7 linked regions of the Homo sapiens genome follow. The protein of the gene in region 5 purifies or fractionates together with the protein of the main gene of each other region. This does not show direct contact. Each region holds a gene or a part of one and is shown on either strand. Other genes may lie near its edges.

The links.
Region 1: the proteins of BST1 (region 5) and ITGA7 purify together in Homo sapiens (affinity purification with mass spectrometry; one large-scale study listed by BioGRID and IntAct). This does not show direct contact.
Region 2: the proteins of BST1 (region 5) and POGLUT1 purify together in Homo sapiens (affinity purification with mass spectrometry; one large-scale study listed by BioGRID and IntAct). This does not show direct contact.
Region 3: the proteins of BST1 (region 5) and HAPLN3 purify together in Homo sapiens (affinity purification with mass spectrometry; one large-scale study listed by BioGRID and IntAct). This does not show direct contact.
Region 4: the proteins of BST1 (region 5) and PRSS21 purify together in Homo sapiens (affinity purification with mass spectrometry; one large-scale study listed by BioGRID and IntAct). This does not show direct contact.
Region 6: the proteins of BST1 (region 5) and ARSK purify together in Homo sapiens (affinity purification with mass spectrometry; one large-scale study listed by BioGRID and IntAct). This does not show direct contact.
Region 7: the proteins of BST1 (region 5) and ITGA8 purify together in Homo sapiens (affinity purification with mass spectrometry; one large-scale study listed by BioGRID and IntAct). This does not show direct contact.

What each region holds. Positions count from the first base shown.
Region 1 is NC_000012.12:55,687,487-55,690,904, reverse strand, and holds part of ITGA7 (integrin alpha-7 isoform 2 precursor), read left to right. Parts: intron 1-1,947; coding exon 1,948-2,061; intron 2,062-2,604; coding exon 2,605-2,703; intron 2,704-2,808; coding exon 2,809-2,934; intron 2,935-3,418. UniProt on the Homo sapiens protein: Integrin alpha-7/beta-1 is the primary laminin receptor on skeletal myoblasts and adult myofibers.
Region 2 is NC_000003.12:119,478,963-119,482,462, reverse strand, and holds part of POGLUT1 (protein O-glucosyltransferase 1 precursor), read right to left. Parts: intron 3,287-3,500; exon of another isoform or gene 2,789-3,286; intron 2,556-2,788; exon of another isoform or gene 2,413-2,555; coding exon 2,291-2,412; intron 1-2,290. UniProt on the Homo sapiens protein: Dual specificity glycosyltransferase that catalyzes the transfer of glucose and xylose from UDP-glucose and UDP-xylose, respectively, to a serine residue found in the consensus sequence of C-X-S-X-P-C.
Region 3 is NC_000015.10:88,885,545-88,889,044, forward strand, and holds part of HAPLN3 (hyaluronan and proteoglycan link protein 3 isoform 2 precursor), read right to left. Parts: exon of another isoform or gene 1,882-3,500; intron 1,802-1,881; coding exon of another isoform or gene 1,755-1,801; coding exon 1,631-1,754; intron 1-1,630. UniProt on the Homo sapiens protein: May function in hyaluronic acid binding.
Region 4 is NC_000016.10:2,815,798-2,820,036, forward strand, and holds the start of PRSS21 (testisin isoform 1 preproprotein), read left to right. Parts: upstream 1-1,439; 5' UTR 1,440-1,471; coding exon 1,472-1,535; intron 1,536-1,632; coding exon 1,633-1,659; intron 1,660-2,003; coding exon 2,004-2,169; intron 2,170-2,879; coding exon 2,880-3,172; intron 3,173-4,239. UniProt on the Homo sapiens protein: Could regulate proteolytic events associated with testicular germ cell maturation.
Region 5 is NC_000004.12:15,720,065-15,723,564, forward strand, and holds part of BST1 (ADP-ribosyl cyclase/cyclic ADP-ribose hydrolase 2 precursor), read left to right. Parts: intron 1-2,810; coding exon 2,811-2,870; intron 2,871-3,370; coding exon of another isoform or gene 3,371-3,392; exon of another isoform or gene 3,393-3,500. UniProt on the Homo sapiens protein: Catalyzes both the synthesis of cyclic ADP-beta-D-ribose (cADPR) from NAD(+), and its hydrolysis to ADP-D-ribose (ADPR).
Region 6 is NC_000005.10:95,600,101-95,602,851, forward strand, and holds part of ARSK (arylsulfatase K precursor), read left to right. Parts: intron 1-746; coding exon 747-971; intron 972-2,751. UniProt on the Homo sapiens protein: Catalyzes the hydrolysis of pseudosubstrates such as p-nitrocatechol sulfate and p-nitrophenyl sulfate. Catalyzes the hydrolysis of the 2-sulfate groups of the 2-O-sulfo-D-glucuronate residues of chondroitin sulfate, heparin and heparitin sulfate.
Region 7 is NC_000010.11:15,604,923-15,608,422, reverse strand, and holds part of ITGA8 (integrin alpha-8 isoform 1 preproprotein), read left to right. Parts: intron 1-132; coding exon 133-188; intron 189-591; coding exon 592-746; intron 747-2,000; coding exon 2,001-2,138; intron 2,139-2,631; coding exon 2,632-2,699; intron 2,700-3,500. UniProt on the Homo sapiens protein: Integrin alpha-8/beta-1 functions in the genesis of kidney and probably of other organs by regulating the recruitment of mesenchymal cells into epithelial structures.

The sequences.
Region 1 (3,418 bases), on a different chromosome or scaffold from region 5:
CCTATGAGTGAGAATATGCGGTGTTTGGTTTTTTGTTCTTGTGATAGTTTAGTGAGAATGATTTCCAATTTCATCCATGTCCCTACAAAGGACATGAACTCATCATTTTTTATGGCTGCATAGTATTCCATGGTGTATATGTGCCACATTTTCTTAATCCAGTCTATCATTGTTGGACATTTGGGTTGGTTCCAAGTCTTTGCTATTGTGAATAGTGCCGCAATAAACATACGTGTGCATGTGTCTTTATAGCAGCATGATTTATAGTCCTTTGGGTATATACCCAGTAATGGGATGGCTGGGTCAAATGGTATTTCTAGTTCTAGATCCCTGAGGAATCGCCACACTGACTTCCACAAGGTTTGAACTAGTTTACAGTCCCACCAACAGTGTAAAAGTGTTCCTATTTCTCCACATCCTCTCCAGCACCTGTTGTTTCCTGACTTTTTAATGATTGCCATTCTAACTGGTGTGAGATGATATCTCATTGTGGTTTTGATTTGCATTTCTCTGATGGCCAGTGATGGTGAGCATTTTTTCATGTGTTTTTTGGCTGCATAAATGTCTTCTTTTGAGAAGTATCTGTTCATGTCCTTTGCCCACTTTTTGATGGGGTTGTTTGTTTTGTTCTTGTAAATTTGTTTGAGTTCATTGTAGATTCTGGATATTAGCCCTTTGTCAGATGAGTAGGTTGCGAAAATTTTCTCCCATTTTGTAGGTTGCCTGTTCACTCCGATGATAGTTTCTTTTGCTGTGCAGAAGCTCTTTAGTTTAATTAGATCCCATTTGTCAATTTTGGCTTTTGTTGCCATTGCTTTTGGTGTTTTAGACATGAAGTCCTTGCCCATGCCTATGTCCTGAATGGTAATTCCTAGGTTTTCTTCTAGGGTTTTTATGGTTTATGTCTAACATTTAAGTCTTTAATCTATCTTGAATTAATTTTTGTATAAGGTGTTAGGAAGGGATCCAGTTTCAGCTTTCTACATATGGCTAGCCAGTTTTCCCAGCACCATTTATTAAATAGGGAATCCTTTCCCCACTGGTTGTTTTTCTCAGGTTTGTCAAAGATCAGATAGTTGTAGATATGTGGCGTTATTTCTGAGGGCTCTGTTCTGTTCCATTGATCTATATCTCTGTTTTGGTACTAGTACTAAAGTAGATTCTTTTACTAAAAAGGCAGAAGGCCTTGCTTTTAGACAGCTTGGCTAAGGATTCTTGAATGGCTCAAAAGTGGCAAAATAAAAGATAACTCAAATAATTCAGACACTCTTAAAGCCATTCTTCTGTGTCTGGATCGTGGTGTGATGAATATAACATAACTTTCAGGCAAATGGGTCGTGAGGTGGTGATTGGGCCAAATGGATTTAGGTCAGTCCTGGAAAGAACAGAGCCTGAGTCCCCTGTCTACCCAGGAGCTCCTGAGGCTACCTCCTCCTCCTTCAGCGAGTTTGGGTTTAGGGCAGGGGTGTGGCTTTGCCGAATATGGACCTGAGTTCAAATATTTGCTCCACCACTCATTAGCTTTGCTAGTGCTGTGACCTGAGGCAGGTCGCTTGGCCTCCTTGGGCCTCCTCAGTTTCTTCCTTTGAAAAATGAGGATGATAATGTGCACCTTGTAGGACTATTGCGAAGCTTAAGTGAGATAAGTGCCTGACAAGTAGTAGGTGCTCAATAAATGGGACTGTCATTAGGTAACATAAGCATCACTTGGGGAAGCTACTCTGCCTGTGCTGTCAAGTAAGAGATTCCCTTCCATGCTGCCCCCTCCACGCATTTCAAAGCTGAATAGCTCAGATTTGGGGCAGGCAGCTATTTTGGATATAAGATTAGTTTGAGAAGACTTCCTGGAGGAGGGGAGTTTGAGGTCAAGTAAGGAAAATGGGAGAGATGGCAGTCTCAGCAGGGTTGAGCTGAGTGGCTTAGACCCCTGTCTGTCCTTATCCCTAGGACTGCGCCCGGGGCACGGCCAACTGTGTGGTGTTCAGCTGCCCACTCTACAGCTTTGACCGCGCGGCTGTGCTGCATGTCTGGGGCCGTCTCTGGAACAGCACCTTTCTGGAGGTGAGGATACCACTCGGCTCTAGTCTGTGTTTCTTCTTCCTCCAAAGCCCCTCCAGGACTCATTTCTCCTCCTCCTTCCTCACTGTCCAAATGCAGCATCCCCCCCCTTTTTTTTTTTTTTGAGACGGAGTCTTCCTTTGTCCCCCAGGCTGGAGTGCAGTGGTGCGATCTCAGCTCACTGCAACCTCTGCCTCCCAGGTTCAAGAGGTTCTCCTGCCTCAGCCTCCTGAGTAGCTGAGATTACAGGCACGTGCCACCACACCCGATATTTTTGTATTTTTCATAGAGACGGGGTTTTGCCATGTTGGCCAGGCTGATCTCAAACTCCTGACCTCAGGTGATCCACCCTCCTTGGCCTCCCAAAGTGCTGGGATTACAGGTGTGAGCCACTGTGCCCAGCCCAAACGCAGCATACTCTTAACCCAAACCAGGCAGAAACATCCTCTGTGTTGGGCACCATTACATTTATAATTTCAGGAGGTAAGGGGAAGGGAGGGAGACATGGGGCATTTAGGAGAAGGGTCTCCTTCCCTGTTCCCTTAGGAGTACTCAGCTGTGAAGTCCCTGGAAGTGATTGTCCGGGCCAACATCACAGTGAAGTCCTCCATAAAGAACTTGATGCTCCGAGATGCCTCCACAGTGGTGAGCTGCAGGGTTGGGGGATAGGTGGGGAGGACTCTCTTCTTTCCTGCTCCCTCCAGTTCTTGTTCCATTGACCTCTTGCTCCATTGACCCCTTGCTCCCCAGATCCCAGTGATGGTATACTTGGACCCCATGGCTGTGGTGGCAGAAGGAGTGCCCTGGTGGGTCATCCTCCTGGCTGTACTGGCTGGGCTGCTGGTGCTAGCACTGCTGGTGCTGCTCCTGTGGAAGGTGAGGCTTGGAGGTGGGGCTGATGGGGGTGGACTTCCTGGTTGGGTGAGCAGCATTTTGTATTGTGGTTCTGTCACCCACCCACACACTCATGTATTCAGCAAATCTGCACTGAACACTTGCCCTGCATGTCTCAGGAACTCTATTAGTCCCTGGATGTTTCAAAGATAAATCAGATGCAGGCTGGGTGCAGTGGCTCATGCCTGGAATCTCAGCACTTTGGGAGGCCTAGGCAGGTGGATCACTTGAGGTCAGGAGTTCGAGACCAGCCTGGACAACATGGTGAAACCCCATCTCTACTTAAAATACAAAATTAGCTGGGCGTGGTGGCACGCACCTGTAGATCCAGCTACTTGGGAGGCTGAGGCAGGAGAATCGATTGAACTCGAAAGGTGGGGTTGCAGTGAGCCGAGATGGCGCCATTGCACTCCAGCCTGGGTGACAGAGCGAGACTCCATCTCAAAAAAAAAAAAAAAAAAAAAAG
Region 2 (3,500 bases), on a different chromosome or scaffold from region 5:
GACCCCAGGAGTTTGAGTCCAGCCTGGGCAACATAGTGAGATCCTGCCTTTTAAAAATAAACAAACAAACAAATAAATAAAGTGACTCTTTCATATGTACTGACATGAAACAAAGACATGGAAAGATTACTTAGATACACCAATAAGTTAGGGGGAAAGTTGCCTGAGTTATACATATTTGTAAAATTTTATGAGCATATATAGGTTTCATAATCAGTAAAAATGTTTTTAAAGATTTTGAAAACAAAGCAGCTGCATGGCAGGTGGGAAAAGAGCTACAAAAAGAAGAATGTGAAAAGGGTATTTGCAAGTACCTGAGGAGGGGGGGAAAGGATTAGAAAATTAAGGCCAAGGCCAAGAATAACTTAGGGAAAAAAAAGTTTAAAACCTTTTTTCCAGCTTAGTGTGGTGGCTCATGCCTGTAATCCCAGCACTTTGGAGGCCAAGGTGGGAGGATCACTTGAGCCCAGGAGTTTGAGATCAGGCTGGGAAACATAGCAAGACCTGTCTCTACAAAAAATTTTAAAAAACAACCAAGAAACAAAAAAACCACACCTTTTTCCCCCCCTCTCAAAATTATGTTCAAAACCCAAAAATAAACAAGAAATGACAGTCTCAATGTCAGGAAAACACAAGGAATATTAACCAGTAAAGTAGGTTGGATAATGCACTTGGAAACCTGGTCTTTAGGCCTAGATTTGCTTCTGACCTTGACCAGATCACTAAACCTTTCTGTACCTTCATTCCCTTATCCCTGAAATAAAGGGCTGGACAAAGACAATTTCTAGTTCCAGTTCTGTAAAATATGAGACTAAGTTATTATTTTTTAAAATTTCCAAATTATACCCACTAGAGAAGTTTGTTTTTTAACAAAGGGCTCTACCCACCACTGAGGACTGCAGCCCTGTACGTTTCTTCAGGAAGGGAATATTACCTTAATCCTCTTTGAATCTTCAGCCACACTTGGGAGAGGTGATAGGTATTTATGGAAACAAGGTTGAATTGTTTGCTTTCCTTATACCTGAGAGAAGGCCTATAATGACTGTGTTTCCGGAAGTTCTCTAATTAAGCACCAAAGTTGTTTGAATCATGATGTAAAATGTAGCTAGGTAAGAAATACCTACAGCTTGGATGAGCTACACAATCTAAATTCTGAAATGATAGCAGGATGGAGTCAACAGGCCAAGGCATGTCTCAGTCATGAATCAGAGAGGATCTGGAATAAGCTTGTACTTGAGATGCTTATGGGACATTTATGCTCCCTCAGCCCTGCCTAAACTACTTAGCTCTCAATTGCCAAGTATGTTTATATTCTTCCAAATAATTTTCTATCCCCCCTATGACGAGGTCATTCATTTTTTCTTACTATGAAAGAATGCACTCTTATTTAAAGAATCTTAAGTATAGAAAAATTGAAAATACTGACTGAGCACAGGGGCTCGTGCCTGTAATCCCAGCACTTTGGGAGGCCGAGGTGGGTGGATCACTTGAGGCCAGGAGTTCCAGACCAGCCTGGGCAACATGGCAAAACCACATCTCTACTAAAAATACAAAAAATTAGCCAGGTGTGGTGGCACATGCCTGTAATCCCAGCTACTCGGGAGGCTGAGGCAAGAGAATTGCTTGAACCTGGGAGGCAGAGGTTGCAGTGAGCCGCGATAGCACCACTGCACTCCAGCCTGGGAGACAGAACATGACTGTGTCGCAAAAAAAAAAAAAAAGAAAGAAAAATTTAAAATACAAAACAAAAGTCTCTGATAATCCCTTGCAAAGAGGCATTGCTGATAGTTTAGGATAGACTATTCTGCCCCTTTCTATGGATATGTAAATATTATTAGACACGTACAAAATTGTTTACACTACAGTTTTCTGTCTTTAATTTTTAACTTAAAAATTAGTCACTTAAAAATAAATAGGCTGGGCGCGGTGGCTCACGCCTGTAATCCCAGCACTTTGGGAGGCTGAGGTGGGCAGATCACCTGAGGTCAGGAGTTCAAGACCAGCCTGACCAACATGGAGACACCCCGTCTCTACTAAAAATACGAAATTAGCCGGGTGTGGTGGCACATGCCTGTAATCCCAGCTACTCGGGAGGCTGAGGCAAGAGAATCACTTGAACCTGGGAGGCGGAGGTTGCGGTGAGCTGAGATCACGCCATTGCACTCTAGCCTGGGCAAAAAGGGCGAAACTCCGTCTCAAAAAAAAAAAAAGTAAATAATTGGTTATATTCTATGGCTTATTTCAAGAAAACCCAGAAAGAGAAAAAATAAAACCTCTTTAAAGGACCTACCTTACCAGATCTTCTCTGAAGAGGTCCCACCGTCCAAGACCTGTAGGATAAATTGGCCAAACAGCAGGTCCCCCTTCCCAAAATGTCCAAGCAGGATACATGATATCATGGTACTCTGATGTCTTCAACAAAAACAGACAGGTCGTCCTAAATCAGTCTTGGAACAGTGAAAAGAGGCAACTGCAATCATGCCACAGGATCTGGACAGCCTTGGTTTAGTGTCACATTGTCAAAGATATATTTTCCCTATTTTCCAAAGTCTAGCCTGTAGACATTAAAAGGCAAAAGTGACTATGGATTAAAAGTCATGGGCTCACTGAATTCCAGAATTCAGAATCACATTAAAGGTCAGCTTTTTCAGTTCCCCCAAATTCTGTTTTTCTAGAGGATATATACTGTTAAGATTTCCAATTTAAGGAAACAATATGCCCAATTCTGAATAATCACAGAGCTCTCTCATTGTTTAACTATTACATTTAAGAGTTTACACTGTCTTACCAGTTTTTGGTTATTTCCCAATGGGTTTTTTTGAGAGTAAGAGCCAAGAAATACATGCAATGGTTAAGAGTGTGGGCTCCTGATGTGGATCACATGGGTTTGGATTCTGACTCCACCTCTTTACAGCTCTAGGCAAGTTACTTAATGGTTCTATGCCTCAGCTTCCTTATCACTGTAATGGGGGAAACAATAATATCAATAATATGATCTAACTAAAAGGTTTATTTTGAATATTAAATGAGTTGATACACGTAAAATTCTTAGAACAGTAGCTGGCACATTGTACATACTTGATAAATATTGGCTAGTGTTATCTCATACTATGGCACTGTTGGGCTCACATTGATTGGTCAATAAATTCTTGGTTATTCACTGATCGGGGTCAGAAGTATGGATGAGCAAAATGAGAAGGGGTGTTATCACATATCTTTTGAAAGAAGTTTGAGGTTGGGCACGGTGGCTCACACCTGTAATCCCAGCACTTTGGGAGGCCGAGACGGGTAGATCACCTGAGGTCAGGAGTTTGAAATCAGCCTGGTCAACATGGTGAAACCCTGTCTCTACTAAAAAATACACACAAAATAATAGCCGGGCATGGTGGCAGGTGCCTATAGTCCCAGATACTCAGGAGGCTGAGGTGGAGAATCACTTGAACCTGGGAGGTGGAGGTTGCAGTGAGCTGAGATCGCGCCACTGCACTCCAGCCTGGGCA
Region 3 (3,500 bases), on a different chromosome or scaffold from region 5:
CCTCCCAGGTTCAAGCAATTCTCCTGCCTCAGCCTCCTGAGAAGCTGGGATTAAAGGCACCTGCCACCACGCCCGGCTACTTTTGTATTTTTAGTAGAGACAGGATTTCACCAGGTTGGTCAGAATGGTCTTGATCTCTTGACCTCGTGATCCATCCACCTCGGCCTCCTTAAGTGCTGGGATTACAGGTGTGAGTCACCGCGCCTGGCCAATTTTTTGTATCTTTAGTAGAGGGTTTCGGTATGTTGGCCAGGCTGGCCTTGAACTCCTGACCTCAAGTGATCCACTCACCTCAGTCTCCCAAAGTGCTGGGATTATAGGCATGAGCCACTGCACCCAGCCCTCAGCTTTGTCTTTTTAATAGCTGTTTGACCTGGACAACTGGATCAACTCTCTGAGCCTAGTTTGCTCATCTATGAGAAGGGATGATAATAGAATCTACTTTCAGGCTGTGAGGGCAGACAGCATCAATTCAGCCTGGTCAGCACCCGTGCTGCACTAATGGTTAAAAATGTGTATTTTCGGCAAGGCTCGTTGGCTCACGCCTGTAATCCCAGCATTTTGGGAGGCTGAGGCGGGTGGATCACCTGAGGTCAAGAGTTCAGGACCAGCCTGGCCAACATGGAGAAACCCCCATTTCTACTAAAAGTACAAAAATTAGCCAGGTGTGGTGGCAGATGCCTGTAATCCCAGCTGCTTGGGAGGCTGAGGCAGGAGAATCGCTTGAACCTGGGAGGCAGAGGCTGCAGTGAGCCAAGATCGCGCCACTGCACTCCAGCCTGGACAACAAAGTGAGACTCCATCTTAAAAAAAAAAAAAAAAAGGTATATTTTCACCCTTGCCTACATCAGGGCTTTTGTGATTACAGGAGACGACATATGCAAAATATCTAGAAGCGCGCCCAACCCATGTTGGGTGCACAATAACTGCTACTTTAAAACGTTCCCTGCCCAAGGCCACACAGCTAGTAAGAGGTAGAATTATAAGATTCAAACTCGGGCCAGGCATGGTGGCTTATGCCTGTAATCCCAGCAATTTGGGAGGTCGAGGCAGGTGGATCACCTGAGGTCAGGAGTTCAAGACCAGCCTGGCCAACATGGTGAAACCCCTTCTCTACTAAAAATACAAAAAGTAGCCAGGCATGGTGGCACATGCTTGTAATCCCAGCTACTCGGGAGGCCGAGGCAGGAGAATCGCTTGAACCCGGGAGGCAGAGGTTGCAGTGAGCCGAGATCGTGCCATTGCACTCCAGCCTCGGCAACAGAGTGAGACTTTATCTCAAAAACAAACAAAAAAAACATTCAAACTCACATCTATTCGACCCCAGGTCCCCTTTCCACTGGGGGGACCAGGGGAGGACACATTCAAGCTGGACCTTGAACAACTGGCAAGACTTTTAGGGAAAGTAAAAAGCCTAAGTGAATTGGGCCCCATGACGAAGGGGCTGGCGAACACAGGAAAATGAACTCACCCCTTCCCCTGTCTGAGAAGCAAGCTGGCCCACTACAAGGGCCCTGCTGGAACAGGGCTGCTGTCCCTGTCCCAGCCTGGAACCCTCAGATCACAGCAAGAGCCAAGGAGGTCTAGGTCACCCAGGGGAGCAAAGAGCCGGGTGCAGGAGGTCGCCTACCTTTGCCATGACCGTTGCCTAGGTTCTGGTCGTTGGCGCTGTTGGAGTAGTAGAAGCCGTTGTAGAAGGGCAGTCCGTAGGAGCCGGGCAGCAGGAGCAACGGGACCAGGAGCAACAGGCCCATCTCCTCATGCCAGGGTGACCCGGGCCAGGCTGGGGCCCCAGGGCAAACTGGGAAGGGGAGGAAAACAAGGCAATTAGAAAAGCCTGGCTTCCAGGGCCCACATCCCCTCTGCTCCAACACCACTCACTCGCTTGCTCAACAGCTCACTGCGGGACACCTGCCGCCTACGTGCCAGACGCTGTTCCCGGAGCTGAGAAGACAGCAGTGACAAGCTAGATGGGGTTCCTGCTTTCAGGGAGCTGTACCCCGAAGGCAAGACGGGAGATCAGCAAAGAGACAAATCATAAGAAGGAAGTATCAGGCAGCTAAAAGCAGAGAAAATTAAGCAGGATGATATGACAGGCTCAATGTTTTTCAAGCCAGAATTTGAAAGGTTATGGGCAGGCTGGGCATGGTGGCTCACGCTTATAATCCCAGGACTTTGGGAGGCTGAGGCGGGCGGATCACCTGAGGTTGGGAGTTTGAGGCCAGCCTGGCCAACATGGAGAAACCCCGTCTCTACTAAAAATACAAAATTAGCCAGGCATGGTGTCACATGTCTGTAATCCCAGCTACTCGGGAGGCTGAGGCAGGAGAATCGCTTGAACCCAGGAGGCAGAGGTTGTGGTGAGCCAAGATCATGCCATTGCACTCCAGCCTGGGCAACAAGAGTGAAACTCTATCTCAAAAAAAAGAAAAAAGAAAGAAAAGAAAAGAAAGGTATGAGCAGCACTTTTTAATGACGCCAAATAAACTAGACTAGAATAGAAAATATCAGGGTGAATAGAGGGTATGTTAAGTAAAGATGAGTCCTGCATTGTGAACCCTTTTTTTTTTTTTTTGAGACAGAGTCTCGCTCTGTCGCCCAGGCTGGAGTGGAGGTTGCTCACTGCAACCTCCGCCTCCTGGGTTCAAGAAATTCTCCTGCCTCAGCCTCCCGAGTAGCTGGGACTACAGGTGCGTGCCACCAAGCTCAGCTAATTTTTTGTAATTTTAGTACAGACGGGGTTTCACCGCGTTAGCCAGGATGATCTCAATCTCCTGACCTAGTGATCAGCCCGCCTCGGCCTCCCAAAGTGCTGAGATTACAGGCATAAGCCACTGCGCCCAACTCAAAAATAATTTTTGAACACCATGCTAGAGGTCTTGGGAGCTATTCCAGTTTGGGTGGGCGCTCAAAAGAGGTAGCCAACCCATGGGCTGTAGTTTGATGATTTGATTTTTTTTTAAATATTGTATTCAAATATTTTGTCTTGATTACTAAGATTTCTAGCAAACTCCCTTCCTCCCCCGCTTAAATCTCACACCAAGGGCTACTGCCTCACTCATGTCACCCTAGCCCTGCTCACCTGCCATTTACTGCGTGCTCTCAACAATTAAAAGATGGGGTCACTCCTTGAAGGAGCTTGGTCCAGGGAGGGGGCAGAGTCGTGGGCAGGCAGTCTTGATTGCTGTGTGTTGAGTACCACGATGGAGGTACAGAAACGGGAATGTCCAAATGAGACTGAAGATGCAGGAGTTTGCCAGGTGGAGAAGGACTGACAGGTTTATCCAGTAGGGCACTGCCACTACAAAGGTGCAGATGCCAGCAAGAGTCCCAAGCCTGGGGGTGCTGGGGGTATACAGGAGGTCCTCCATTTGCCCCACACACCCACCAGGTCCATCGTCTGTCCTTCTCTGACACGTATTGGTCCCTGTTGTCCCAGTTCCCCAGGCCTTCTGGCTTCCAGTGGGATTGAGCCAATGGGAGGCACTCAGAGAAGATGG
Region 4 (4,239 bases), on a different chromosome or scaffold from region 5:
ACTTAATACTTTTATTGGAAAACCAGAACGCCTAACCACACATTTTGCCTAATCTTTCATGTAATTAACCTTCCACTAGTGCAAGTGTTGAAAGTAGAATACGCTATTCCCAAGTTTCAAGTTGAGGGAGGCGGGATTCCCAGGTTCTGGTTGTACATTCCCATTTTCACTGATCTGTTCAGTGGTCAATGGATTCTTGGGTTGCTTTCATGTCAGCTACTGTGAATAATCCTGCTATGAACATGGGTATACAAATATCTCTTGAAGGCTGGGTGGGGTGGCTCACACCTTCACCCTGGCACTTTGGGAGGCCGCAGAGGGCAGATCACCTGAGGTCAGAAGTTCAAGACCAGCCTGGCCAACATGGCGAAACCCCATCTCTACTAAAAATACAAAAATTAGCTAAGCATGGTGGCAGGTGCCTCTAATCCCAGCTACTCTGGAGGCTGAGACAGGAGAATCACTTGAACCCAGGAGGCAGATGTTGCAGTGAGCCAAGATCGCACCACTGCACTCCAGCCTGAGCGATGGAGCAAGACTCCATCTCAAAAACAAACAAAACTAAATCCCCCCAAAAAACCAAAAACAAATATCTCTTGAAGACCTTCCTTTCAGTTCTTTTGGGTGTATGCTCAGAAGTGGAATTGCAGCTGGGCGCGGTGGCTCATGCCTGTAATCCCAGCACTTTGAGAGGCCGAGGTGGGCGGATTACCTGAGGTCAGGAGTTGGAGACCAGCCTGGTTAACATGGCGAAACCCCGTCTGTACTAAAAATACAAAAATGAGCCAGGTGTGCTGGCGCGCGCCTGTAACCCCAGCTACTTGGGAGGCTGAGGCAGGAGAATCGCTTGAACCCAGGAGGTGGAGGTTGCAGTGAGCTGGGATCACGCCAATGCACTCCAGCCTGGGCGACAAGAGCGAAACTCCATCTCAAAAAAAAAAAAAATTGTTCCAGAGAAGTGAAGAGAGCCCAGCGGGAGCCCGCAGTGGGGACAGCCTGGGCAGAGACTTGGGGAGATCCCCATTCTGGGTGGAACGGGCCGAGGACCACTGTTTTCCCAAGAAGGTCCCATGAAGGAGCAGCCATGCCTCTAGGCCCCACCCGGCCTTCAGGGGGTCCCCAGGCTTTAAGGGGACTCCTGGCTCAGGGCCAGGCCCTTGGTGCTGGAGGAGGTTGTAGGTGGAGGACGGGGTCACCAAGAGGGCAGCCGGGACCCCTGGGCTGCAGACAAGAAAGGGACTGTGGGGTCCACCGGGTCTGGGCCACATCAAGAAGTGTGGTTGAAGACCCGCCCCTAGGGGCTGAAAGCCAGGGCGCTGCCAGGCATGAGAGGCCCCAAACAGCCCTTGGGCCCAGGAGGGTGAAGCTGGGAGTAGAGGGCAGAGCTCCCACCCCGCCCCGCCCCCAGGGGGCGCCCCGGGCCCGGCGCGAGAGGAGGCAGAGGGGGCGTCAGGCCGCGGGAGAGGAGGCCATGGGCGCGCGCGGGGCGCTGCTGCTGGCGCTGCTGCTGGCTCGGGCTGGACTCAGGAAGCCGGGTGAGCTCGGGGCGCTGCTGGCGGGATGGGGAGGCGGGGGAGCGGTGGGGAGGACGGGAGGTGGAGGCCGCGGGGAGTCACTTCTTGTCTCCCGCAGAGTCGCAGGAGGCGGCGCCGTTATCAGGTAGGGCGCCCAGGACGCGCGATTCCTGCCAGGGCCGTTGGGCCGAGGTGGACGGGGGGCGGTGAGGGGGTAGAGGGGGGCCTTTACTGCTCTCTCGCCCCCGCCCCCGGGATCGAGAACTCTGTTGGCGTGGAAAGTAACTAACGGACGCTGGAGGGGGATGGGCGGGCCCTGCAGAGCACGTGGGAGGATCTCCAGTGTCACCTACTTCCTGCTGCACACACGCGAGGGGACCCTGGGTGGGCAAAAACGTGCTTTCCCGGACGGGGTTGAAGGGGAGAAAGGGAGAGGTCGGGCTTGGGGGGCTGCCTCCCGCGGCTCAGCAGTTCCTCTGACCATCCGAGGACCATGCGGCCGACGGGTCATCACGTCGCGCATCGTGGGTGGAGAGGACGCCGAACTCGGGCGTTGGCCGTGGCAGGGGAGCCTGCGCCTGTGGGATTCCCACGTATGCGGAGTGAGCCTGCTCAGCCACCGCTGGGCACTCACGGCGGCGCACTGCTTTGAAACGTGAGTGGGGGTGCGAACGGAGGGGTGCGGGGACGGGCAGGAACAGGGCTGGAGGGAGTGCCACCGAACTTTACCTCTGGTCTGATGCCAGACTTGGGCGTGAAAGTTGTGCGTGGATGCGGCCTGGTGTTCTCCTGAGCCCCAGGCTGTGCTGCAGCCGGTTACACCCACTCCAGTTCCCTTTGGGTCTCCTGGAGGGAACCCTGTTCAGGTTATTCCAGAATGTTCTTCCAGAACATTTCCACACACTTTTGGGTATTCTCTCCCTTTTTCTTTCAACCCAAAGTTCACCACTGACCATCCCACCCTCATCCCCCCTCCTGGTGGACGGTGCGGTACAGTGTGGGGCACTGAGCCAAGGCCAGCACCCCCGGGCCGCTGTGTGGACTCCATCCTGCCAATCCCACATTGGCGTGGTGCATCTCCCCATTCCTCCTTGGGCTGCATGGGGGTGCCCCTGGAGGCCTTGGCTCAATGCAAGGCTCCTTGGGACAGCTCTGGGAGGTGACAAGACCCCACCCTTCTGCTGCAGGAGCAGGTCCTAGGACTTTGGTTGTGGTCTGTCTGGGCTCCTTCATTTCTGCAGGGGACCCTGGGTGTTAGCAAGTAGCAGCAACACCACAGTTTCCCCTCCTGCACTGGACCCCAGTTGTGCTCAGGTAGCCAGCCCTCCATCCAGGGCCCCTGACTGCTCTCTTCTCTTCTGCCAGCTATAGTGACCTTAGTGATCCCTCCGGGTGGATGGTCCAGTTTGGCCAGCTGACTTCCATGCCATCCTTCTGGAGCCTGCAGGCCTACTACACCCGTTACTTCGTATCGAATATCTATCTGAGCCCTCGCTACCTGGGGAATTCACCCTATGACATTGCCTTGGTGAAGCTGTCTGCACCTGTCACCTACACTAAACACATCCAGCCCATCTGTCTCCAGGCCTCCACATTTGAGTTTGAGAACCGGACAGACTGCTGGGTGACTGGCTGGGGGTACATCAAAGAGGATGAGGGTGAGGCTGGGGACAGGCGGGTCAGGGAGGAACTGTCTTTGTTCACCTGTTCCCCTGCATAGGCACAATAGCCCCCTGCTTGGTCTGGGGGTGCAGGCTATGCCCCTCTTGCTTGCAGTCTCTCCTCACCTGCCAGGGCAGGGACCAAACACCCAGTTCTCTCCCTTCCAGGGGCTGTGGGGGCCAGAAGGAGAGTGTGAGAGGGAGGCCAGTTTGGCGCAGGCCTGTGGGTGGTGCGGTGGTGGAGGGGTTCTGGAGGGCTTGGCGACATAAACCTCATACTTGGATTTATTCCTGCATCTTTCCACCTCCCCCAGTGCTCACCAATGCCCCAGGCATCAGGCTCCTGGGCTGCCTCTCCATGCCTCCCACACCCACCCTAGCTCTGGCCGATTCTCCTGCAGCACTGAGCCCATTCCTCTCCCCAGAAACTTCCAAGCCATGCTCAACCGCAGCTCCCACGGAAACCCCTCTGGGGGTTCCTCTGGTGGGCCTGCCCTGGCACCTGCGTGTCCCCCAACACACATGCCCTGAAAGAAGTGGGCCCAGCATCCGGAGGAGCCCCGGCAGCCCCAGACTGGGCGTGTTCCCTGTATCAGGAATCCCTTCCCTCTGCTCCCCTGTCTGGCCCGTCCCTGCATCATCCCACAACAGTAGTAACAATAACAAACGTGGTTCCTTGAGCACACGCTGTGTGCCTGGCACTGTTCTAGACATGGGGGCCCAGCAGTGAGCCAGGCGCGGCCTCTCCTCCTGCTGGAGCTCACCTAGGAATGAAGTTGGTAACGTTCTTATACCCATCTTACAGATGAGAAAACTGAGAGGGTTATGGAAATTGCCAAGAACTAGTAAATGGAGAAGTCAGGGCCCCTTGCCTTAGAGAGGGTAAGGGATGTCCCCAAGTCACACCCCGGCAGTTGGGAGTGGGGAACTCAGCACTGGAGCCGCCTCCCTCTGGAGGAGGGATCCTTTGCCTTCCCTGAGAAGGACCCTTGCTGCAAACACGAGTGGATATGAGCCAGGGGCACGGCCAGGCTGCCTCTGCCACCCTCTCTCCCCAGCCCAGG
Region 5 (3,500 bases):
AACCAGCCCTCAGACCAATAAACAGAACATACTCAGCATCCCCAGGGGCTCCCATTGGCCTCTTTTGGTCACCACCCCCATAGTAACCACTCTCTAGATTTATAATGCCATTAATTAGTTTTATCTGTCTTTAAGCTTTAAACTCAGTGACAGAGCTGAGTTTTGAACCCAGCTTTGCATGGCCTTAACGCACGCTCTTTCCCTCCTGCTACCAAGCTCTTCCTTCCTTAATTGAAGCTCCAGTAGTACATTTTAAAAAACATTCAATTCTTGGCCGAGTGCAGTGGCTCATACCTGTAATCCCAGCACTTTGGAAGGCCGAGGCGGGCGGATAACAAGGTCAGGAGTTCGAGACCAGCCTGGCCAACATGGTGAAACCCCGTCTCTACTAAAAATACAAAAATTAGCCGCGTGTGGTGACTGGTGCCTGTAATCCCAGCTACTCGGGAGGCTGAGGCAGGAGAATCACTTGAGGCAGAGGTTCCAGTGAGCCAGGGTGACAAGAGCCTGGGTGACAAGAGCAAGACTCTGTCTCAAAAAAAAAAAAAAAAATCAGTTCTTAATCCAAAACAGCTCAATAGCCAAGTGCAGTGGCATGCACCTGTAGTTCCAGCTATTTGGGAGGCTGAGGTGGGAGGATTGCTTGAGCCCAGGAGTTCAAGGGAACAGTGAGCTATGATGGTGCCACTGCACTCTAGCCTGGGTGACAGAGCAGGACCTGGTCTCAAAATAAAACAAAGTAAACCCCTAGCCATCGCCCCCTCAAAAACAAACAAACAAACAACAACAACAAAAAGCTCAATGATGGAGAAAATTGTAGCTAAAATTGTTGCATTCACAACCACTTTGCTTTGTTTTTATGTCATTGGGCTGAGTTATAATAGCCGGGCCAGAGCCCAGGTCTCCTTGCCCCTCACGGCTGCCCTGGGTCTGGGCTTATGTGCTTCCTCTCTATTGTGTCCCTACCTCAGTCAGCCTCAGGGCTCTTCTCTTCCAGGCCTGACTCAGTAAAGAAATGAGGAAGCTCCCATTTCTTTATTGCCCATAGGCTGTTTCTGTGTTAGTGTCAGGAGCAGAGAGGATATAATGAAAGGTATAAATGGGAAAGTGATGAGGGTTAACATAACAAATCCAACTCCAACCCAGATGTGAGAAACTCCTGCCCCTCACAATTCAGGTGGCATTGCCTTCTGCCCCACATCAGTAGAAAGTTCTCCCTGAGGTTCTTGCCCATTTTGGAGGGGGCTTATCTTTTCATGGCCTCCCTTACCTTCTGGTTGGTTTCTGCCAGTACTGTGTTGAATCAGACTCAGTGAAAACTCCATACCTGTTTTTGGGCATAAACAATGACAGATAACTACTTTTATTAAAAATATGTGCATCACATATACACCATGGAATACTATGCAGCCATAAAAAGGATGAGTTCATGTCCTTTGTAGGGACATGGATGAAGCTAGACACAATCATTCTGAGCAAACTATCCCAAGGACAGAAAACCAAACACCGCATGTTCTCACTCACAGGTGGGAACTGAACAATGAGAACCCTTGGACACAGGGTAGGGAATATCACACACTGGGGCCTGTCGTGGGGTAGGGGGAGGGGGGAGGGATAGCATTAGGAGACATACCTAATGTAAATGACGAGTTGACAGGTGTGGCACACCAACATGGCATGTGTATACATATGTAACAAACCTGCACGTTGTGCACATGTACCCTAGAACTTGAAGTATAATAATAAAAAATAAAAATATGTGCATCAAGTAGACACTACTGAAAGGTAGCTGAGTCAAGGACAGAAGACATGGCATGCCATAGAGACAACAATATCACGTTCCTGTTCTTCCATAGTCCCCTGCAGTGATCGTGCCACAGAGATCCTGTCTAGGCTTGCCTCCTACCTAACTCCCCGTGTGCCACCAAGACCTGGCTCCTGTCTTCATTGCTGCTTCCCTTCCCCTCCTGGTGGCTTGGAACTTCACATCTTCTCCCTCTGTTGTGCACAGCAAGTTAGCTTTCCTCTCTGATGCCTGAGCATTGGCCATCACCCATGTGGTTCAAGTCCAACCTTCTGCCCAAAGTACTTATCAGGTCATACGAGTTGTACGTGCATACAGAAATGGTTAGAAGCTCAGGCCCTAGAGTCAGCCTGCATAGTTCAAGTTCAGCCCTTCAACTTGCTACTGTGAGAACTTGGGTGGGTTATTGTGGTCAGCTTTCTCAATTGTAAATTGGAGAAGATAAAGCACCTATTCCATTTGGTTGTTATGAGGATTACATGACATGATCCTTACAAAAGATATAATCAAATGTCTTGGTACGTAGGAAGTGCTTGATAAATGCTGGCTAATATTTTCATTTGTTTTAGTTTTTCTAGATACAAGGCCTCACTCTGTTATCCAGGCTGGAGTGCAGTGGTGCGATCATAGCTCACTGCAGCCTTGAACTCCTGGGCCTCCTGCCTCAGCCTCCTGGGTAGCTGAGACTATAGGCATGAGCGTCTGCACCCAGATAATTTTTAGATTTTTTTTTTTTTTTTTTTTTGTAGAGCCAAGGTCTCGCTATGTTGCCCAGGCTGGTCTCAAACTCCTGGTCTCAAGCAGTCCTCCTGCCTCAACCTCCCAAAGTGCTGGGATTACAGGTGTAAGCCACCGTGCTGGGCCACTAATATTTTTAGAGGAAATAGTTTGTGTATTATTTGAGGTCAGAGACTACTGTATCTCCAGGACTTTTCAGGCAAGCCATAAATGGTTGATGGATGAAAGTTATTTAAATAATCCCTTAAATATTATTTTCTTTCTGTAGACCAGTGAAGCTCTTACAGTGCGTGGACCACAGCACCCATCCTGACTGTGCCTTAAAGTCGTAAGTAAATGTCTTAACCCAAATCGTTCTTTCCAAAGATAACCATCTCCTTTCAGAAGTTTTCAGTTCACAAACATGAACATATTATCAGAGGCAGATGTAAGTGTGCTCATTGGATTCTGGTTTGGCCTTATTTTTATTTATATGTATCTGTCTTAGTTTTTGTACAAAAAGCAATCACGCTACACATAACGTCCTGCTGTGAGCTTTCTTCACTTGCTGGTGTAATGGGGCCACCCTTTAAAGTTTGTTCATACTTCTGTCCTAGTCTGTTAGTGGCTGTAGAGCAATCTGTAGGATGGTCACACTACCTTTTTTTTTGGGAGGCGGGGGGCAGAGTCTCGCTCTATCGCCCAGGCTGGAGTGCAGTGGCGCAATCTCGGCTCACTGCAAGCTCCGCCTTCCGAGTTCACACCATTCTCCTGCCTCAGCCTCCCGAGTAGCTGGGACTACAGGGGCCTGCCACCACGCCCAGCTAATTTTTTTGTATTTTTTTGTAGAGACGGGGTTTCACCGTGTTAGCCAGGATGGTCTCGATCTCCTGGCCTTGTGATCCGCCTTCCTTGGCCTCCTAAAGTGCTGGGATTACAGGCGTAAGCCACCACGCCTGGCCCACACCACCTTTTATGT
Region 6 (2,751 bases), on a different chromosome or scaffold from region 5:
GAACATTTCTCATGCTGTTGTTCTATATGTCTACATTTGGTAAGTTAAAAATTATTTTTCCCTTCCTAAATATAATCCACAATTCCTGAAAGCATGTTTTTCAAGATGCTAGTCCCTCAAGATGCTACTTGAGAATGTAAAAAGCTCTGTTATCACATAACTTTGGGGCACATAGTATACTATATACCACTCCTGAAGGTTTATCATATACATCAGCAATAAATTTACATCTACAACAAACTTATGTATTTAATTTTGTTTAACCATTGTTTTGCAAACATATAAGACTACTAAACCCCTTTCTTGTATAAGACTTGTTAATATCCCATGAAAGAAACTTTGAGAAACAACTATGATTATTTAATCATTTAGAGAAAAAAGGAATAGTGATATTAACTATTTGTTGAAGGCTCCTATCTGCCAGGCATTGTCCTCAGAGTTCTTAGAATTTTACATAAAGTATCTTATTTAAACCTAAAATGAACCTAATAAATACAAGTACTGTGGTCATCCCCTTCTTACAGATGAGAAAACTGAGGTTGAGATAAGTAAATTACTTGCTGAAGTCCACATGGCCAGTGGGGTAAGCATGTGAATTTTGGCAGCCTGTTTACAAAATCCATATACAATCTCCAGTCTCCATGGCATTTAATGGTATGAAAAAAATGTGAATGATGCTATTTGTGAATGTTCAGCTAATAAAAGAATGAGCTATTTTAAGATATTTGGTTATTTTTGTTACATAGATATTGCTGGAATTCCTCTGCCTCAGAACCTGAGTGGATACTCTTTGTTGCCGTTATCATCAGAAACATTTAAGAATGAACATAAAGTCAAAAACCTGCATCCACCCTGGATTCTGAGTGAATTCCATGGATGTAATGTGAATGCCTCCACCTACATGCTTCGAACTAACCACTGGAAATATATAGCCTATTCGGATGGTGCATCAATATTGCCTCAACTCTTTGGTAAGTTTGTTAATATATTTTTAAGTGTAATATTATGTGTAATGAACTGCCCTATGTAGCATTGCTCAAGATATCCAATAATCCTTGTTAAATAAATGAATATCTGCTGCTTCTCATGCTAGGACGATCTACAAAAGGTTGCCCATGTGAGGAACAGCCTCTTTGCAGATCAGCAGCTGAATTTCAGAGAAAGTGTCCTAAGGCTTTTGATCTGGGTCTCATGACTGAAACCAGTTTTCTCTGATCAGGGCATCTTTCAGTACTCATGGTTATCTTTCCCAATTTGAAGTCAACACCTCATTGTACCTCATTGTTCTGAAGGATTAACACCTATCTTATGAAGCCTGACATTTTACATGTATTATTTAATGTTCACCACAACCCCACAAGATAGTACCATTATCCTCATTTTACAGAGGAGTCTATGAGAGAAATTTGGATACCTGTGTGAGGTCTCACAGCTAAGAAGTAGCAGAACTGAGATTTCAACGAAGCTGTGACTGTAAAATTGATGCTTCTTACAGCTTCTAAAAAATGTCTGCCAGCTTCACTACTCTATGAATTAATTTTTAAGCAGCATTTTTAGATTCAGGGTTTTACTCATCCTTTGTCCCCATTTAGTACATAAAATATGTGCTAAAGCCATAAGTAATATTTATTTCTCCCTAAGGCTCCTTCCCAGTTACAAATAGCAAAATTATTATCAAAATAATACTTTGGGGGCCAAACTGGCCAACCCCCTTCACTTGAAGAGTGGAGGATTCTTGGCTGAAAAAGGAAGTCTTTACATTTTCATCCTGATGAGTAATGGGCATCTCTTGCTTGTTCATTGGCCATTGTCAAATGAAATTTATGGGAGGCCATTGTTTTGAACTGAGTTCCTACACCAGGCTCAACAGACCACATCAAACCAGAATGGGGTCACTGGCAGTAGGTGCCCCATAATCAAACTGAACTTTAGAAGAAAAAAAAAAGAGAATCACAATAACCAATCCGAAGGGGCTCATTTTACCTGAACCAGCATAAGGAAGTCTCCTCTGTTTTTACTGGACAAAGAAAGTAACACTATAATGACGAATCTGCTTTTTGTTCCATGTTTCTGGGACTTTTTCATCAGCCTTTTTCTGCCTATAAAGCCCACCTCCCCTGCTCAGCTCATCAGAATGCCTTTTCTAAATCTTTAGAGGGGTTGCTGCCCAATTCAGGAATCACTAAATAAAAGCCAATTTGTTCTTTAAATTTGTTGAAATTTTGTTTTTTATACCATGTTCTACCAAAAAACTGATGTGACTATCAAAATGTCAGAAGTGGGGAATCAGCCTTTTCTGTACTTTTTAGGGCTTATTGATTTCCCTTTCCTAAAGATGTACCATCTGGAAATTACCTAGCAAAGTCACATATCTCTTCAGGGGCCTCTTGGCTACTGCACTTAAGTAGGCCCATAGAGGTTTTTCCCTCAACATACAGTGTTCATTTACTATCTGAAGTTAATTGTCATAAGATCTCTGACTTGCTGTTCTTCCAGTTAGATTGGTATACTAGTTATATCCCTGTCTTCCCATACCATATCTAAAAAGTATCTTTATGGATCTGAAATATTTATCATTATTTTCTTGCTGGCAGTGATTGAGAAGTTTGTATTTCCATGGCTGTTTGTTCAAATGGACAGTACTGATGAATGTAACTTTCAAAACTCCAAGCATAAGATACTAATATATAAAGAAAACTAGGACTAAGTAAAGTTGCAGGAACATGACTTGTCTATATAAAGAATTTGTAG
Region 7 (3,500 bases), on a different chromosome or scaffold from region 5:
GTGTGTGTGTGTGTGTGTGTAATTAGAAATATATAGAGAAAATGATATTCGTTATCTGGGATTAGGTAAAGGAAGGCTTCTACTTTAGATTCAAAACTTTATTAACCAATAAATTACTACTATTTTCTATAGCTTTTCTTTAAGAGTATGTGCATCTGTCACAGGCCAGAGCATTGCAAACACAATAGGTAAGCATGTTTTCATTTTTACATTCTTATGGTATACTAAGAAAGTTGAACAGTAACCATTTCTCTGCACAGACCATAAAAAAATGAAAGAACCCTTGAGGAATACCAAGATATCTGTTGCATATATGGAACCTTCTAATAAATATTACTTCAATACTTGGTAATACTATTATTTATAAGAACATATAATTGTAGGGAAAATGACAACTTTTATAAAACCATTATAAAACATTTGTAGCTTGGAGAGTATGTTATACAATTTTTCCAGCTCATTTATCATGCTTGGTCTCAACTATGAAAAAGAACTGTTTCCTGAATAAGCAACTTGAAATAGAAATTCATCTCTCTGATAGAGCACTGTGTTCACTGAATACTTTTTCTCTACTTTACTTCTGTCCTTTAGTCTTGATGGCAGAGGTGCAATTAGATTCCCTGAAACAGAAAGGAGCTATTAAACGGACGCTCTTCCTTGATAACCATCAGGCTCATCGCGTCTTCCCTCTTGTGATAAAAAGGCAGAAATCCCACCAGTGCCAGGATTTCATCGTTTACCTTCGAGTAAGTATTCCAGAAAGACTTCTCTGGCCTCTCTCCTTCATATCCAAATTCCAACCATTTTTCTCCATTTAACCATCATGTTTGTCTGCATAGACCCCCATCTGTCTGTTTTCATTTTCATAGCAGGAAACTTTATTTTAGGGTCAAATACTCTCCTCTTGACCCTGACTTCAACTAACCTGATGATGTGTTGCTATTAATTTCTAAGGCTTCTTTTCATTTTGATCAAAATCTTTATAATGGCATTCAGCTCACATGGTTTTCATTTCTACCCACCTCCTCCCCAAAATACATAAAAGTGCAACACAGTTTATGTGAATTTTTCTCCTATGTGAGTATGTCTTGTTAGATTTTATCAATGCATGTTTCAGAGCCAATTCAGGAAAATATTTAGGCATTCAAAGCTTTTATTAGAAGTAACTTATAATTATCTTATTTAAAGTAATGTCTTTTTACAATGACTTCAAAACCTACCGAAATTTTAAAGTAAAAATATTTATAACACAATTACCTATCTTCACCTTGCCGGTTGTGAGGTTGTGATAACTGTCTCAATTTCTCTTTTCCATTAGGGGACTTAGTTAGCAAGGACCACCCTAGGGAAGATCACAGGTTCACAATCACACTCAAGAATGAAAAGTTGGATACCTGACCCTTGATTGGCAAACAATTGAAGGGTGACATATCCACCGTGTGTTTAGTGCTTGCTGTTTGGTGCTTACCCCTCTCTACTAAAGGAGTTCTGTTTCTTTTTCCAAAAGAACTTCAAATATCCTGAAGGTGTTCTGAAGTTCATGCAGGCAAGGGCTTAAAAAGATGATGAGAGGAAGAGAATCAAGATGTTTTCTTCTTCTGAGCCCCAAGAGAGAACTCATAAATTCTGGCAACCTCACGAAAATAAAAATCCAAATTCATGATGTTTTTTGTGACATTTATGATATACACGTGTAATCTTTTACTTTGCAACTTGACCAGTTCTGCATGAGTTGTTGAAGGTCTGGAGAACCCAAAGATTGGCTCCAGAAGCGTATTTCAATGAAGCCGCAGCTCTAAATGATTTCATCACTGCACATATATTAGGTATGCTGGCTACTATATACCACATAAATCAGCCTCCATCTAAGCCTGCTGCAAAGATAATTGTTTCATCATTCACTTTCATTGAGTAAATTCCAGTGTTGCCTGACTTTTGCAGACTGACATCTTGCAGCTATTTCATGGAGCCTCTGTTGAGTTTGTGATTATTTTTCCTAGGATGAAACTGAATTCCGAGATAAATTATCTCCAATCAACATTAGTTTGAATTACAGTTTGGACGAATCCACCTTTAAAGAAGGCCTGGAAGTGAAACCAATATTGAACTACTACAGAGAAAACATTGTTAGTGAACAGGTAAGTCCTTCACAGTCTTTGACGGCATTTTCTCAAGCAAGCTCTCTGGGGTGTTGTTCTCATGGCTTTAAGACTAAAGCCAGCTCCTTTCATTTTTACTTCTGCATGCAGACATGGAACATTTGGGAGTTTTCCTACCATGTTTCCTGAAACACTGCATGATTGTGTTTTTCGGAAGCCTTTCCTCTTGTGCAATCAAGATTTAATTTGTTCAAAATGTGGCTGTAATGGAAGCAATACAGCCTGTAATCCTCAAGCCATAGGCAGAGTTGCATTCTTTGCAGATATTTCAGAGTGCATTGGAATTGGGCTATTATGTAAAGTAGCCTGTATTGGGAGGTCACTGTGAAATGTAGGCTATTGGCTTGGGTAGAGTCATGCATAGTGAGAGGAAAGCTCTGGTTCCGTTTGTGGCACCATTCAGAATTTTCAAGAAAAAGGATGTGAATCAGATTTTCCTAGATTGTTCCTGACGTGCGTTTATACAACACAGGCTCACATTCTGGTGGACTGTGGAGAAGACAATCTGTGTGTTCCTGACTTGAAGCTGTCGGCTAGACCGTAAGTTTAAATAACTAAATGTGTACTTTCTATCTAATGGAATTACAGGTATTTATGTAAAGGTTCTCTGGAGAAAGTATACACTTCCAATAACTACCAAAAACTATGCTGCGTGAAATTCTTGAGCTTGGCTACACTTTGGGTTAGCCTGTGGTTTGGGTCAGTTATTTGTCATTGGTGTCAAATGACACACCCTAAGATTTTGCCTGGGTCGTTTCATCTTTCAGCAAAAGTGGGGAAAAAAATGTTTTTGTTGAAAGTAAACTCATTGATGGGGTGGCTCGGGTTATGTTTACTTGCCTCAGTCAAGTAGACAAAGGATTCAGACAGGCAGGTTCCATCTACACCTTCAACCAAACTTTTTTTCAGCACCCCATGACTCAAAGCCATCCTTAAAACTGTCAAAACAAAATTAATTTTAACTTATTGAATAAATAAACCTAAATAGCACTCTATGGAGTAAAGCAGAAGGTGTCACAAAATTGAAACGAATCAAAGGGCTTCACAGTTGCCAGTAATGGACGCCCCCATTCCAGCACTGGAAATTGCACTGTATTCTGTTATGGGAAGACATGGACTAGGATGTAAAACATTCTGTGGTCAAGAAACAGATTTGTGTTTCTTTCCCTCCCAGGAACTATCTCACTGCCAGTGTTTGGAATCTGCTTGGTAACTTCTCAGAGGGACTTCCCCCAAATTTCATAATTTATCAACTTCAAATGCAATCGCTTTAAGTAAGGTTAAAAAGTGGAGTAGGCATTTCCAACTATTGGCTTGATTTGCAGTTCTAAGTGAACTGCA